Regions from separate parts of the Homo sapiens genome. Here region 1 is linked to region 2. Evidence: fine-mapped expression QTL. Tissue or cell type: whole blood. Region 2 holds a variant in brackets; the other region holds the start of a gene. All regions are shown on one strand. Distances are from middle to middle.

Evidence for each region. PIP is the estimated chance that this variant, and not a neighbour inherited with it, causes the effect.
Region 1: it holds the start of MCUB, and the variant in region 2 is fine-mapped to the expression of MCUB in whole blood (INTERVAL, PIP 0.90).

Annotation. Positions count from the first base shown.
Region 1 is chr4:109,556,807-109,564,911 of GRCh38, reverse strand. MCUB (mitochondrial calcium uniporter dominant negative subunit beta) reads right to left here and starts at 4,666. Exons shown (of 8, transcript NM_017918.5): 1 at 4,476-4,666. The coding sequence starts at 4,574. RefSeq lists an enhancer at 3,780-3,979 and a silencer at 4,400-4,719.
Region 2 is chr4:109,654,764-109,662,763 of GRCh38, reverse strand. MCUB (mitochondrial calcium uniporter dominant negative subunit beta) reads right to left here. Exons shown (of 8, transcript NM_017918.5): 2 at 3,678-3,753; 3 at 2,399-2,569. Among named protein-coding and RNA genes, the nearest start is that of CASP6, 45 kb to the left of the region's middle. The variant C/A (reference allele first, on the strand shown) is at 3,836.

The sequences.
Region 1 (8,105 bases), 98 kb after region 2:
TAGTTCTCTCTCAAAGAAAGATGGTAGTACTGAAGTTACTACTCTCCTCACTCACTTATGGAAGTGGATTCCTCTTTTCTTCCTGCTGCCCTCACCTGCTCTAAATCTTCCTATTTCCTTGCTACCCCATCCCCACCTGAGTTAAAGTATAGTTTGCATCAACTACCAAGCCCTGTAACCATTTGTTCTGAGAGTTTCCTGTGTCATAAACTTCCAGATGTGTTGATTTTACATAATTTTTACCTTAATTACAGGTTCACTACAAGTATTGTAGATCAGGTTTGCATTTTGGCAGCTCTTTAGGGAACAGATTTCAGTCCAGGATTCACAATATTGATGAGAAATCATCTATGAAATCTGCATGATAAACAAGGTCTATTGAAGATAATTTTTTTGGAATAGATTTGAGGGCAAGAAATAGGGAACAGTGAAAGAGAGGCAAGATATGGGGCTAGACTTGAAATGCATATAGCCAGCCGGGCGCAGTGTCTCATGCTTGTAATCCCAGCACTTTGGGAGGCCAAGGTGGGCAGATCACGAGGTCAGGAGATCGAGACCATCTTGGCCAACATGGTGAAACCAAACCCGGTCTCTACTAAAATACAAAAAATTAGCTGGCCCCCATGGTGGCACATGCCTGTAATCCCAGCTACTTGGAGGCTGAGGCAGGGGAATCGTTTGAACCCGGGAGGCGGAGGTTGCAGTGAACTGAGATTGCGCCACTGCACTCCAGCTTGGCGACAGAGCAAGACTCCGTCTCAAAAAAAAAAGAAAAGAAAGAAATGCATATAGCCTATAAGCAGAAATAAATAAGAAATGACATAAAACATTGAATCTCATATCAAGAAACTGACAGGTTCACAAAGCTTTGCTGTGGTAAACTTTAGAGAGGAAAATCTTGAAGACTGGCAAGGGTCACCCCACAAATATGAGTTCTTCCTGAGGATCTTATGATATTTACTAGATTGAGTAGATTATTAGGTCTGGCTTTTTCCTTTACTTTTATTTTTTTAAGAAGTGCTGTGGGCTGGGCGCGGTGGCTCACGCCTGTAATCCCAGCACTTTGGGAGGCTGAGGCAGGAGGATCACGAGGTCAGGAGTTTTAGCTCGAGGTTTTCTACCTTAGTTTCACAGGTACCTCATTCAACAAATATCTTTCTGCCAAGACACAAATGATTTCCTAGCTTAGAATTTGCTGTAAAACAGCACTAATACCATTTAATCACAATAACAAGCAAAATCTAAAAAAAACACACTAATACTTAAGTGCTGCAAAAGTGGTAATGTTTAATATTTAATTGACAAGCTGGTCTAGCATTACTTTGAGATCAAAGCATCAATGTCTTTTCCATAGCGTAAATACAATCACCAACACTTAACCAATTGCTCTCCTCAGGAGAGGGCTCTGAAGTTAGTTTTATAGAATAGAATACAATGTACCAACTGCAAATACAAGAGATAGAATAGTAGGAACATGTCAAACAAGAACGATATGTTCATTAAATTAAAAAGATGAAAACAATTTCTAAGTTGACATCTTGTGGTGGAATTTAAACATCCATATGCTTTGTTTCTAGAAGTTAAAAAAAGCATACTCGATACTTAAGCTGCTCTGCAGAGTGCTTGATGTAAAAATTTTTTAAACATAGCTTATGTATGGACTCAAATGCTGTACTGGGGACATGAAATCGTATCAGGGAGTTTCTCAGTCTAAGTAGCACAAAATCCAAATTAAGAAAGGCACATTTAGGCAAGGGCTTTCTGTTCAGATGTAACTCACCAAGCACCACAATTACTCAAAGCTGAGTCTTTGTGCACAGAAACATCAGCAGGAGCCATGGATTGCCCTGACAACCACTCAGCTAGAGTGCTGACAAGCAGAGATGCTGCCACCAGAGCGTGATTATGGCCACCAGGCCATGCCTTGCCCAAAGATGAATACAATATGCTCTTGCTCTACTACGCTTCAGACTAAATGTGTTCTTTAAAAAACAATTCTGTATATCCATGTCAACAAACTGTTTTTTTTTCCCCTCACCCAGAAAACACTAGCAGACAATTGCTCACATACAATATGAAGTATGAGAATTGTGTATTTTTCAAAGTTATTAAATGCTCCTATAAGGCACACTCATAGAAGTGTGAAAGACTTCAGAAAGACCAATTATAGTTGGGAACGCTTATTTGAAATACTGCTTACGACAAGTCCTTGCAAGCTAAGATTTTATGAGCTGTCAGGTCACAAACTACTTGTTTTTCTAGCTGCTTCATAGGCTCTAGGGGTCTGAATGTTTCTGGGAAAAAAAATAAATAGAAATAATACTTGCCTTTACCCACAGGATATTTCATAACAAGTGGGAAAGCCACAAAAGAGTGATATCTTAGAATGAAAAATGTCCCGATAGCCAGGTAATTTGATTAGCAGAAAATGGTTTAGTAGTCCTAGCTAAAACTCCTCAAGAGCCAGAATATTTTTATCGGTTTACTCATGGTAAAATGTAAAAGCTGTATATAAAGAACAGCATTTCCACTTCTCAAGTTCTGAAAATTGTCTTTATAGCTGGACAGTTGGCTTAAAACAAAAATTTGCAAATTAGAAACATTCAAACATAACGCTTCTTACGATGATTCCTAACTACTGTTTCCCTGTTATTAGGCCTAATAAGCCCGATGGTACCATTTTCTTTTAAAAGGGTATCCACATTCCTGCTGAGGTATGCAATGGCACCACCCTAGACAGCATCAGATGGGAAATATGGAGAAAAGGATTTGCAGGTGATAATTTGAGAAAGGGCAGCCAGTCCCGGGATCCACAAAAATGCTACTCAACGTGTTAAATGGACTTAATAGAAAACACTTGGGGCTGGTCGCGGTGGCTCACCCCTGTAATCCCAGCACTTTGCGGGGCTGAGACGGGCGGATCACAACGTCAGGAGTTCGAGACCAGCCAGTCTGGCCAACATGGTGAAACCCCGTCTCTACTAAAAATACAAAAATTAGCCGGGTGCGGTGGCGCGCGCCGGTCATCCTATTTTCTGGGGAGGCTGAGGTAGGAGAATCGCTTGAACCCAGGAGGCGGAAGTTGCAGTGAGCCGAGATCGCACAACTGCACTCCAGCCTGGGTAACAGAGCAAGACTCCGTCTCCAAAAACAACAACAAAAAACAATAATCTGTGTTTAAAATGGCATGTGAAAGGGGTTCCTCGTATTGGGTTGTTTTAATGTTTGGTATCTCTTTGACTACACAATGCAACACTTACAGTAAAAGTACAACCTTTAAAAGTATAAAAAGCCCATCTCCCCAATGACTTTATAAGTCTACCATTTTACATTTTAAGGAGTTTGCCCCTGTTCTTACATTTAGTAACAACATGGCCTTCCTCATTCTCTTTCAAACATTCCTGGAATTGATTTTCTGAATGCACTTAATCCTTTGGTCACAAGCTCAATGAAAAGGAAAAAAAAATGCACTTAAATATTCCCTGCATCAATTGAAACTGAAGCCCTCAGACAGCTGGAGGAAAAGGGGGGGAAGGAAAAAAAAGAACAAAATAAACAGGAAGTGAAAGTGACAAGAGAATCACACTGCTTACTTTTTGGCTTTTAAGCCTTTAACAATCTGAAAGTAATCTTAACAGTGTGGGGGAGGAACAAACGAAAACTCAGAAACAGCTCCCTCCCCAACCACACACACCCTGAAGGCTTTGGCTGTCTTTCCTCATCTGGGTCAGAGTTTGCACTCCCGGGCTCCTGTCAGGCTCCATCGCAATCCTCCTTAAACTCAGCGCTTTCCCCTTCTTCTAGTCTTTTTTGGTGCACATCCACTCTCTACTCCTCCAAGCCACGGTTCTCCACAGACCACAATACAACGGTGTCAGGCCAACTGTTACTCACCAGCACACTCATGATTCACCCGTCTCTCGGGTGTCTGAACAAAACGCGAGTTTTTCTTCCTTCTGGGAAAGGGAGGTGCTCGCAGATTTCAGGATGGAAATTTCACTCTCCTGCGACCGTCCACACCCGGGACGGTCACTGCCCCGTTCATCGTTTCCGGGCTCCTTAGGGGCTCGGGCACTGATCACCAAGAGGGAACCGGCCCCGCGGCGCAGCGGCTTTGGAAACTTGCTCCTGACCGAGAGCTGCAGCCCAGAAACTGCCTCCCAGGTTATTCTGCTGCTCCCAGGCCGAAGTCTGGTGGTCCCCGCACCCTATCTCGGCCCGGGTGAGGCACCCCCAGCCGCAGCGCTCTGGCTTCACCTTCCCCGGGCCCGGAGTCTTGACCTCAGCCCAGGCCTCCGTGACCCACGTCGGCCGCCCGGCCACCACCTGTCGGGACCGCCCGGCGCGCGGAGCCCGGCAGCCAGCAAAACGCAGTTGACTGCTCGGCCGCTCGGCTTTTGCTCCCGCCAAAGTTGTCCAACGCAAACTTTGCACCAGCCTACCCCGAACCCCCACAGCCCGGCACCCGCTCTTACCTGGGGCGGAGGCGGCAGCGGCCACGGGCGCGCTGGGCGCCAGGTGCCAGGGGTCGGCAGCAGCCGCGTGCGCCACGGCCAGAGGCCCCTCTGGAGCATCCTCCCGCCCCAGGCGCGCGGCTCCCGCAGGCGTCAGCGGCGCATCCTCCCTCAGCCGGGCTCCTCGTCAGCGCCTGGTGGCTCCGAGCTGTGGGCGCTCCCGCCCCGCCTGCTCGCTCAGCGCGCCGCGGCTCCAGCTTGGGCGGGCTCACGGGAGGGTGTGTCCCTGTTTCCACTTGTCGGCTCTCTACGCATCCGGGCGCAGGGCTGTTTTCTTTCCTCCGACCAAAAAAAAAAAAAAAAAAGAGAGCGAGAGAGCGGGAGCCCGAGAGCGGGAGCCCGAGGTCGAGGGCCCCCTCCTTCTCCAGCAGAAGACCCTCTGGAATGAACAGCAGCAGGCGACGCACACCTTGCGAGCTCTAGATTTCAAAACTCGCTGTTAATTCCCGGTGCTGCGTGCTCTGAGCGCCGTCTTCGCCATCCAACCCAGACGGGGATGAGACGAAAACAGCGTCCGGCATCTGGAGGGGGCAGGGCCGCTCAGGAAGTTTGTTTTCCCCACCGAGCTTGGAGAAGACGGATTGAAGCGGGTCGGCCGAGGCCTCTCCCACCTCCACAACCTCCAAGGCCTCTGCCCCGGGCTGCGGTGCCGGGCCCCTGCTCGCTGGCGAGTGCGGTGTGAGGCGGGCAGCCCGGGCCTACCCCTGCGGAGGTTTGTAGTTCACGGTATAGGGGCCCAAACCCGAGTTTTTTGGGAAAGTATCTCCCACAGAATTGGCTTCTCTTTTGAAGCACGTTTTTAATTGAAGAAGCTTCGGAACCGGTATTGAGTTCTTCTAACTACTGGGAAATCGGATGCTTTGTTTTGAGACTACTTATTTTTGAAAGCAAACCAAAGGCATTAAAGAGCAACCTAAACCAATTACAGTAGGGTTGTTAGATAAAATATAGGATGCCCAGTTAAACTTGAATTTTAGATACAAATAGTGAAGTATGTCCCAAATATTGCATGGGTCACATTTATTATTTTAAAAATGAAATATCTGGGATATACTAAATTATTTGGTGTTTATCTGAATTCAAATTTAACTGGGCACTCCGCATTTTTATCTCCTGAATCTGCAAGAGGGTTCAGTTAATGAATCAAAATTGGCAAACCTGCAATAAGTGGCAAATCACTCCTGGCGGTAATCTCCTTTCCTTATTGAAAAGGGAAAGAATCACAAGTTTCTACTATAGTAAAAACTTTATCACTATTAAAGGCTGATTCACCTGTGTTAACTAGCATGTCTTTCAAAATACAGTTGCCCCAGATGGAGAGTGACACATGAAACTTTAAGTTCATATGGGAAGGTAAATTACCTTACCTGAATCTTTTCCTCCTATTAGCTAGTGCTCCAAGTGAAAGAAGCGTGTATTTTTGTTTTTTTGTTGTGAAGGGTTCTTGTTTAATACAACTGAAAAGAATGCCTATACAAAGAATTGACATGAAAAAGCATTGATTCAACACTCATGAGCTAGGTTCTGAAAGGTGTAAAAAAATTACCTGAACATTTTTAGAAATTGGAAACTACAACTAAAACTGATAAAAATCCCTATTAACATTTGTGAAGAATCTTGATAATGTGTCCTGAATTGGTGGGTTCTTGGTCTCACTGACTTCAAGAATGAAGCCGCGGACCCTGGTGGTGAGTGTTACAGTTCTTAAAGGTAGCGTGTCCGGAGTTTGTTCTTTCTGATGTTCGGACATGTTTGGAGTTTCTTCCTCCTGGTGGGTTCAGTGGTTTCGCTGGCTTCAGGAGTGAAGCTGCAGACCTTGGCAGTGAGTGTTACAGCTCTTAAGGTGGCGCGTCCGGAGTTGTTCATTCCTCCCAGTGGGTTCGGGTCTCACTGGCCTCAGAAATGAAGCTGCAAACCTTCACGGTGAGTGTTACAGATCATAAAGGCAGTGCAGACCCAAAGAGTGAGCAGCAGCAAGATTTATTGCAAACAACAAAAGAACAAAGCTTCTAGAGCGTGGCACGGGACCCAGACAGGTTGCCACTGCTGGCTCTGGCAGCCTGCTTTTATTCCCCCATCTGGCCCCACCCACATCCTGCTGATTGGTCCATTTTACAGAGCGCTGATTGGTCCGTTTTGACAGGGTGCTGATTGATGTGTCTACAATCCCTGAGCTAGATACAGAGTGCTGATTGGTGTATTTACAATCCTTTAACTGGATATAAAGGTTCCCCAAGTCCCCACTAGATTAGCTAGACACGGAGCACTGATTGGTGCATTTACAAACCTTGAGCTAGACACAGGGTGCTGATTGGTGTGTTTACAATCCTTTAGCTAGACATAAAGGTTCTCCAAGTCCCCAGGAGATTAGCTAGATACAGAGTGCTGATTGGTGCATCCACGAACCCTGAGCTAGACACAGAGCACTGATTGGTGCATTTACAAACCTTTAGCTAGACAGAGTGCTGATTGGTGCATTTACAATCCTCTAACTAGACATAAAAGTTCTCCAAGTCCCCACCCCTCTCAGGAGCCCAGTTGGCTTCCCCTAGTGGATGCCATGCCAGGGTTGCGGGCTGAGCTGCTTGCCAGTCCTGCGCTCGTGCCTCGTGCCTGCACTCAGCAGCCCTTGGGCAGTCAATGGGACTGGACGCCGCTGAGGCAGGGGCGGTGCCCCTCAGGGAGGCTAGGGCCTAGCAGAAGCCCACCGCGGGGGGACTTGCACATGGCGGGCTGCAGATCCGAGCCCTGCCCCATGGGGAGGTGGCTGAGGCCTGGTGAGAATTTGAGCGTGGCGCGGGCCGGCTGGCAGTGCTGGGGGACCTGACGCCCCCCTCTGCAGCTGCTGGCCCAGGTGCTAAGCCCTTCACTGCCCGGGCCGGGGGTGCCGGCCGCCCTCCGAGTGCGGGGCCACGGAGCCCACGCCCACCCGGAACTCGCGCTGTCCCGCAAGGCCACATGCAGCCCCGGTTCCCACCCGCGTCTCTCCCTCAACCTCCCTGCAAGCAGAGGGAGCTGGTACCAGCTTCCGCAAGCCTGGAGAGGGGCTCCCACAGTGCAGCAGCGGGCTGAAGGGCTCCTCAAGCATGGCCAGAGCGGACTCTGAGGCCAAGGAGGCGCTGAGAGCCAGCGAGGGCCGCCAGCACATTGTCACCTTTCAATAAGATTCTTTACACAATTTTTATTAAACCAGAGAGCCAGCCAGGCGTGGTGGCTCATGCCTGTAATCCCAGCACTTTGGGAGGCCAAGACGGGCGGATCACAAGATCAGGAGTTCAAGACCAGCCTGGCCAACATTGGTGAAACCCTGTCTCTACTAAGAATACAAAAATTAGCCGGGCGTGGTGGAACGTGCCTGTAGTCCTGGCTACTCGGGAGGCTAAGGGAGGAGAATTGCTTGACCCCGGGGAGGCAGAGGTTGCAGTGAGCCGAGGTTGTGCCACTACACTCCAGCCTGGGCGACAGAGCAAGACTCCATCTCAAAAAAAAAAACAAACCAGAGAGCCTCATTTGGGGGCTCTTGGGTTCCTCGTCTGCTACACAGAAGTGAGGAGATTCCCCTGACTGATCTCATGTTGTTAAGTGTTCTAT
Region 2 (8,000 bases):
TAAATGACTTCAAACCAGCTCCTTAAAATCTTACTAAAAAAGACATACACTGAATATGATTTCTCAGTTGAAATACTATATTATCCTTTATACAAAGGTATGAATAGCAAAAGACTGACGTGAAACATTTTTAAGCACTAGTGATACAGTGTTAAATTTTTCATGTATTCTTGGGTATCAATTTAAACCCCCGATAGGGTGTTTGCACTCAGTCCAAAGAGTCCCTTTTCTCTAAGACTTCTATTCTCTTTCTTTGTGCTTTCTGTTTCAAAGCTACTAACTTTATTTTTAGAAATAAGCAGGATAAACATCTATCATTTTAACCTCTCTTATTTCATTCACTTCAATACTAATTGAGTACACACCACCAGGCAAGTGCTGCTCAGTGCAGGCCCTTCTGACTTCCAGGTTTGGGTCTGCCTGCCCCTAGAAGCTTAGAAAGAGGGCCCTGCCCCTGTGGAAAACGCCCATGGACATTCCAGTGTTCCTGTGCCTGGGGGAAATGTCTGTCTAGTTCAAGGATGAAATATTAGGAAGCCCATTGTGCCATAGGGCTAAAACCTTATTCTCTGATCCAGGTTTTAGCAGGAAGAAACGTCCCTTCCAGCTAAATCTATAGTCCTAACAACAACCTACAATAAGCCTTTCCTGATCTGCCCTTCCCCACCTCTCAGAACTCCTCCTTTCTCCCAGCTCCCTCCTTTGCGGTCACTGTGTAGTAGGCTCCCACCTCAATGCAGTCTCACTCTATCACTCAGGCTGGAGTGCAGTGGTGCCATCTCGGACCACAGCAACCTCCGCCTCCCATGTTCAAGCGATTCTCCTGCTTCAGCCTCCTGAGTAGCTGGGATTACAGGTATGCAACACTACACCTGGCTAATTTTTGTATTATTAGTAGAGAAGGGGTTTTGCTATGTTGGCCAGGCTGGTTTCAAACCCCTGACCTCAGGTGATCCACCCACCTCGGCCTCCCAAAGTGCTGGGATTACAGGTGTGAGCCACCGCATGCGGCCCAGAGCTCTCTTCCCTCTACGTGACTCCCTCCCTCATTTCCCCCAGGTCTTTGTGCAAATGTAATCTTATCAAGCCCACCCCTGCCCACACACATCTTCCACACTCTGCTTTATTTTTCTTCGTAACACTTATTATTTAACATAATACATAATTTATCTTGTTTTTTTCTCCTCCTAAATATAAGCTCCATAAGGGCAGGAGTTTTTATCCCTTTTGTTCTCTGCACTACCTCTAGCGTATAGAACAGTGCCTGACATACATTAGGTGCTCAATAAATATTTGTTGAATGAATCAATTAATCTCCATTTTCCAACTTCTCTATCTTTTAATTAATTTGGAACTTGGATAGGGAAAAAGTCTGTTTATTTCCCTTTCAAAACTGCAACAGTAATCATGAACCTAAATAACTTTATTCTAAGTATTTAATATCATAATGAAATAATGCAAATTTATTAATTTATCTATATTTGCAGCTGCTATGTAGTGGGATAGGGTAAATAATTCTTTATTCTATTTAGAAGCAGTTGGTCTAAGACCATTTCAGACTATGAGAACATGAAAGCTGTATTCTAAATTTTAAATGTCTAAGTGATGACATACTTCTGGTTTTTTAAAAAATGTATATTCTTCCTAAGAACTAATTCTGCCAAAAAACATACTAGACTGTAATTGCTTTATAACAGTGGTGAACAAATTTTTTGTGTACTTTAATTATTCACTGGCTTATTTTAATAATTAAAACTGCATTTTGTTTTCTAATTATTCAAATTTTGCTGAGAATTGCACGCTAATGCCTGTGCCACTAAGATTTTCTCATGAAAAACCTTTAAGGCTAAGTTTATAAAATAAGTAACTGAAATTTACATTAAATTTATTCCATTAATTTTTCATTCAATGAAGTTAAATTTTTTTTTTTTTTAATTTTCTTTTCTTGGGATGGAGTTTCACTCCTGTTGCCCAGACTGGAGTGCAATGGCGTGATCTCGGCTCACTGCAACCTCTGCCTCCTGGGTTCAAGCAATTCTCCTGCCTCAGCCTCCCAAGTAGCTGGGATTACAGGTATGTACCACCACGGGTGGCTAATTTTGTGTTTTTAGTAGAGACGGGGTTTCTCCATGTTGGTCGGGCTGGTCTCGAACTCCTGACCTCAGGTGATCCGCCTGACTCGGCCTCCCAAAAGTGCTGGGATTACAGGTGTGAGCCACCACGCCAGGCCAAAACAGTTTTTAAAATAGTGTTGATGCATAAAAATGAAAGAATAAAGACCAACCATTTATTATCTAATGAATTAAACAATGTACTTCTAGAAAAGTAAAGAACCAAACAAAAGTTCAGGAGAGACAGAAACCCTGGGACAAAGTTGTAAAATTATATACATATATACCTGCTGTGAAGATGGCTGCAGTTTTGATACCCTTATCTTCATTTTGTAGGTCCTGAAGGAATGAACCAACTGTTGACAACATTGGTTTGACTACGAATTGACAACGTTCTTTTCTAGATGGCAAGGTAAGTGTTACCAAGGGAAGGCCATGTCTATAAATAACTGTTATTTCTGTTAAGGAAAAAAAGAAAAAAAAATGAGTAAATTTTACTTTAAAAAAAACCATAAATACAAGAATTCTAGAAGGAATGCTCAAACATGAAATTCACAAACCTCTGAAGTCTTATAAAAATTTGTATTGCTCCAATAATGCCTTCATTATACTACAGTTTACATATTCCCTACCATTCTATAACATTTTAGTGTAGCACATACCACACTTTATTATCTGCTTAAAGTCTTCCCAGGTGGCCGGCATGGTGGCTCATGCCTGTAATCCCAGCACTTTGGGAGGCTCAGATTGGTGGACTGCCTGAGCGCAGAAGTTTGAGAGCTCTCTGGGCAACATGGCGAAACCCCATCTCTACAAAATATACGAAAATTAAGTCTGGCATGGTGGTGTGCGCCTGTAGTTGCAGCTACTTAAGAGGCTGAGCTGGGACGATGGCTTCAGCCTGGGAAGCAGAAGTTGCAGTGAGCCGAGATCGTGCCACTGCACTCCAGCCTGAGTGACACAGCTAGACCCTGATTAAATGAAAAAGAAAAAAAGTCTTCTCAGGTAAACACTTAAGTTCTAGTTTTCTTGAGGACAGAAACTATTTGTTTTTTTTTCTTTCTTTTTGAGACAGGGTCTCACTCTGTTGCCCAAACTGGAGTGGCACGATCATGGCTCACTGCAGCCTCTACCTCCTGGGCTCAAGCAATCTTCCCACCTCAATCTCTTGGGTAGCTGGGACTACAGGCATGTGCCATCACACCTGGCTAATTTTTGTATTTTTTGTAGAGATGGGGTTTTGCTTTGTTGGCCAGGTTGGTCCCAAACTCCTGAGCTGAAGTGATCCGCCTGCCGTGGCTTCCCAAAGTGCTGGGATTACAGGCCACCACACCCACCCGACTATTGCTTATCATCTCTGACTCCTCTGATTCTGAGGTGGGAATTTGACAAAAGACAGCAGCTATATTATGGGAGCACAAAAAGGTGGAAGTGAACCCAATCAGGGTGGGGTGGGATGGGGATAGTGTAAGAAAAGTCTATTCTGCTCAAAACTCTCGCAGCTCTTTATTTGGAAGAAAGGGAAACAATTAACATATGAATCAAATAAATGGTAAGAAAGCTTACCATCAGGTGGCACCACGGTACTATAATGGTGTGACTGGTAGTATTTCACATTTCCACACAGCTTCACACGCAAAACCTACAAGAAGGAAAAATTAATTTGTTTTTTTAAAAAAAGAGTGGGAAAGATGAAATAAGTGTCTTTATTTTACCATAAGATT[C/A]TTTTTAATACTATATGAAAAGCATAATGAAAAACTCAACTTGTCATGCATCCCAGGGTGAGCCCTTGGCAAGCTCACTGAACCTTCCTGGCTATATGCTTGCCTGCTACTATGTATGCTGTAGCAGTAGCACACCAGGACGGGATCCCTAAATTGGGGTATGAGGCCCCCTGAAAATCCTAGAGTTCTGTGAGAATTTTTACTTTCAGTATTTCCTTTCAGGTAATAATCTAAAACAAATGGACATAAGTATATCTAGTCTAGAGACATGCTTCTCAATATGTGGTCCCCAGACCAGGAGCATCTTGGGGCTAATTAAAAATGCAGAATCGGGCCGGGCATGGTGGCTCACGCATGTAATTCCAGGACTTTGGGAGGCCAAGGTGGGCGAATCACCTGAGGTCAGGAGTTCGCGACCAGCCTGACCAACATGGAGAAACCCTGTCTCCACTAAAAATACAAAATTAGCCAGGTATGGTGGCACATGCCTGTAATCCCAGCTACTCGCGAGGCTGAGGCAGGAGAATCACTTGAACCCGGGAGGTGGAGTTTGCCGTGAGCCAAGATCCCATCATTGCACTCCAGCCTGGGTAACAAGAGCAAAACTCTGTCTTAAAAAAAAAAAAATGCAGAATCACAGATTCAGACCAGATGTACTGAATTCCAGTCTGCATTTTAACAAGATCCTCAGAAGATTCACATGCACATTAGAGTCTGAAAAACACTGCTCTAGATCTGTGCTGTCCGATATGGTAGACACTTGTTAAATGTGGTTATTTAAATTAGTTAAAATTATGTACGGGTGGGACACGATGGCTCACGCCTGTAATCCTAGCACTATGGGAGGCCGAAGCAGGAGGATTGCTTGAGCTCAGGAGTTCAAGGCCAGCCTGGCCGACACAGTGAGACCCTGTCTCCTATAAACAGCAACCACAAAAAAATTATGTACACAAACATTCAGAACCTCAGTCACCTTTGCCACATTTCAAGGGCTCAAAAGCTCCCTATGCCTAATGGCTATCTCACTGAAAAGCAAAAGCGCAGGAATAGCATATTTCTATCATCACAGAAAGTTCTATTGGACAGCAGTGCTGAGTCTACAACATCTGAATGGCCACCTCACCACGGAACATGTTTTGGGGGCTTGCATTGGTGTTTGTGTTTACACAATTGCACTGGTGCTTAATGAAGACCGAATAATATCATGGTGCACTGTGTGAACAAAGATATTGTGGGAGTAGAAAGAACAGGCATTGGGGAATTGGTTCACAGGCATTTGGAACTCAAAAGGACTTGTACCAGAGAAATTAGTACCAAAGTCACAACACGGTGGCTGTAACATACTGATCCAGATTTTTTAATGCATCACCTTACAGTAGTTTATTAACAATAAGTTTGCCAGTAATTGTGCAAAGAATAATTCTTTTATAAACTGCATTTTTAAATTTTTCAGGATTTGAGGGTACACTATTAAAATAATAAATCAGTGGTTAAAAGTGTGTTCGCTGTTTCAAAAAATAAAGATGACACTGACCCAAATGAAGGTCCATTATGTTCAAAATTAAAAGAACCTCATCAATAAGTAAAACAAAACATTCAAATACATATTTTAGTATTAAACACAACATAGGCAATAAATGTCAACACAACATCATCTTTTACATTAAGACTGTTCATTTGAGCTTTCTATTTTTTTTTTTTTTTTTTTTTGAGATGGAATATTGCTCTGTTGCCCAGGCTGGAGTGCAGTGATGCAGTTTCAACTCACTGCAACCTCCACCTCCTGGGTTCAAGTGATTCTCCTGCTTCAGCCTCCCAAGTAGCTGGGGTTATAGGCACCTGCCACCATGCCTGGCTAATTTTTTGTATTTTTAGTAGAGATGGGGTTTCACCAAGTTGGCCAGGCTGGTCTCAAACTCCTGAACTTGTGATCAGCCTGCCTCGGCCTCCCGAAGCGCTGGGATTACAGGCGTGACCCACCACACCCGGCCTGAGCATTATTTCTAAAAATGTAGCTCACTACTAAGATGAGAAGAAAAAGGCAGATGATGTCTTAAAATAGATGCAACTCTCAATAAATAAATATAGGTAGAAGTTCTCCAAGTGTGGATAATGGATATTACAATACCGTCTACTACTTTTAGCAAAACTACATAAAAATGAGACACATCAGAATTCTCTATCAAAATTCTTCTATAAAAATAATGAGACAGATAATTTTCTGTGCATAAAAGTCAAATACACGAAGGTAGGGAGTAGGCCAGGCGTGATGGCTCCTGCCTATAATCCCAGCACTTTGGGAGGCTGAGGCAGACGGATTGCTTGAGCCCAGAAGTTTGAGCCCAGGTAACATGGTGAAACCCTGTCTCTACAAAAATTACAGAAAAAGTCTGGCATGGTGGCACATGCCTGTAGTCCTGGCTACTTGGGAGGCTGAGGCAGGAGGATTGCTTGAGCCCAGGAGGAGGCGGCTGCAGTGAACCGAGATTGTAGCTACTGCACTTCAGCCTGGGCCACAGAGGGAAACCCTGTCTCCAAAAAAAAAAAAAAAAAAAAAAAAAAAAAAAAAAAAAAGTAGAGAGTAAAAGTTAGAGCCCCTCCCTTTACTTCTCTATAATCCTGGAAGTCTCCCCAGAGGTAACCACTGCCAGTGGTTTGGCATGTATCCTTCCAGATTTTTTTCTACACGTTACCTACCAAATTCTATGCTAGAGTCCGTATAATGCTAAAGACATATGAGTCAGGTTCCTAAATGCCATTGGTGATAATGCCTGTGAGAATCCAGGAATCCAGTTGGAGGCAATATAAAATGATTACAAAGTATCATTTAATATACTGATAAAGTTGCAGGTGTACTACTGAAGAAGTAACTGTAGCACCCACAAGATAGAGGCACCCACATGACAACCAGAAGATGCTGAAAGAAGGCAGAGTGGCCTGAGAAAAACAGCAGGGCTTTCTCAAGCTTTTGCTTGCCTAATAATCACCTGGAAGCCTTAAAAACACAGATTCCCAGACCCCATACACAGAGATTTTTAATCTAAAAGGTCAGTTTGTGAGGATTTGCATTTTTAATAAGCTCCAGAGGTAAACTGAAGTTTCAAGGGTGAGAACCACACTGTGAGAAGCTGGGCTTTAGCCAACCTCCCCACAACCCCCACCACCACACACACACACCCCCTGCTGCCCCAGGCTTCGTGGCAACATGCTAGATTTCTGCGTAGAATCATTCCGAATTCCAAATTTTAGTGCCTGGTCAAGCGTTACTGCCTTTAAATGGAATTTGCTATCAGGGCAAAAGATGATTTGGGCTTCTCTTTAACCATGAAGCATTTTTTGTTCCTGACCACAGAGCTCCTGAATCCCTTGGAATTTCACGAGCGATTGAAGTTTCTGTGGTTTTAACAAGGTAACTCTTGGTGGGATGCTAGATGGCTTCAGGATGGGGCTGGTTGCTAGAAAGATCAAACCTTGATTAAAAGCCTAGAATGTTCAGTCCCATCTTCCCAGCCTCCAGGAAGGGGACAGAGGCTGGAGACTGAGTTAATAAAATCCATTATGCCCACATGATGAAACCTCCATGAAAGTCCCTAAACAATGAGGTTCAGCGAATTTTCAGGTTGGTGAATGCAACCACGTGTTGGGAGGGTGACATAATCCAACTTCATGAGACAGAAGCTTCTGGGCTTGGGACCTCCCAACAGTGAAAACTATGTTCACACAAACTGTACCTTGCTTTATGTATCTCTTAATCCAACAGTTTAGCTGTATCCTTTAGAATATCCTTATAATAAACCAGTAAACATAAGTAAAGTGTTTCCTTGAGTTTTGTGAGCAATTTTAGTAAATAGCTGAGGTTGAGGAGGGGGTCATGGGAACCCCTGATTTACAGCCTCCTGTGAGAAACATGAGAGGCCCAGGACTTATAATTGGCATCTTAAGTGGGACAGTCTTGTGGCACTAAGCTATTAACTTGTGGGATCTGATGTTAACTCCAGGTAGGTAGTGTCAGTATTGATTTAAATTGTAGGGCACCCAGATGGTGTTTGGAAAGTTGGAGAATTGGTTGTTGGTATGAGGAAAATATCCACACATGTGCTGCCAGAGTGTTCTGTGGGTAGAAAGAGATCATAGTAACCCATATGAGCATTATGATTTTACCTAT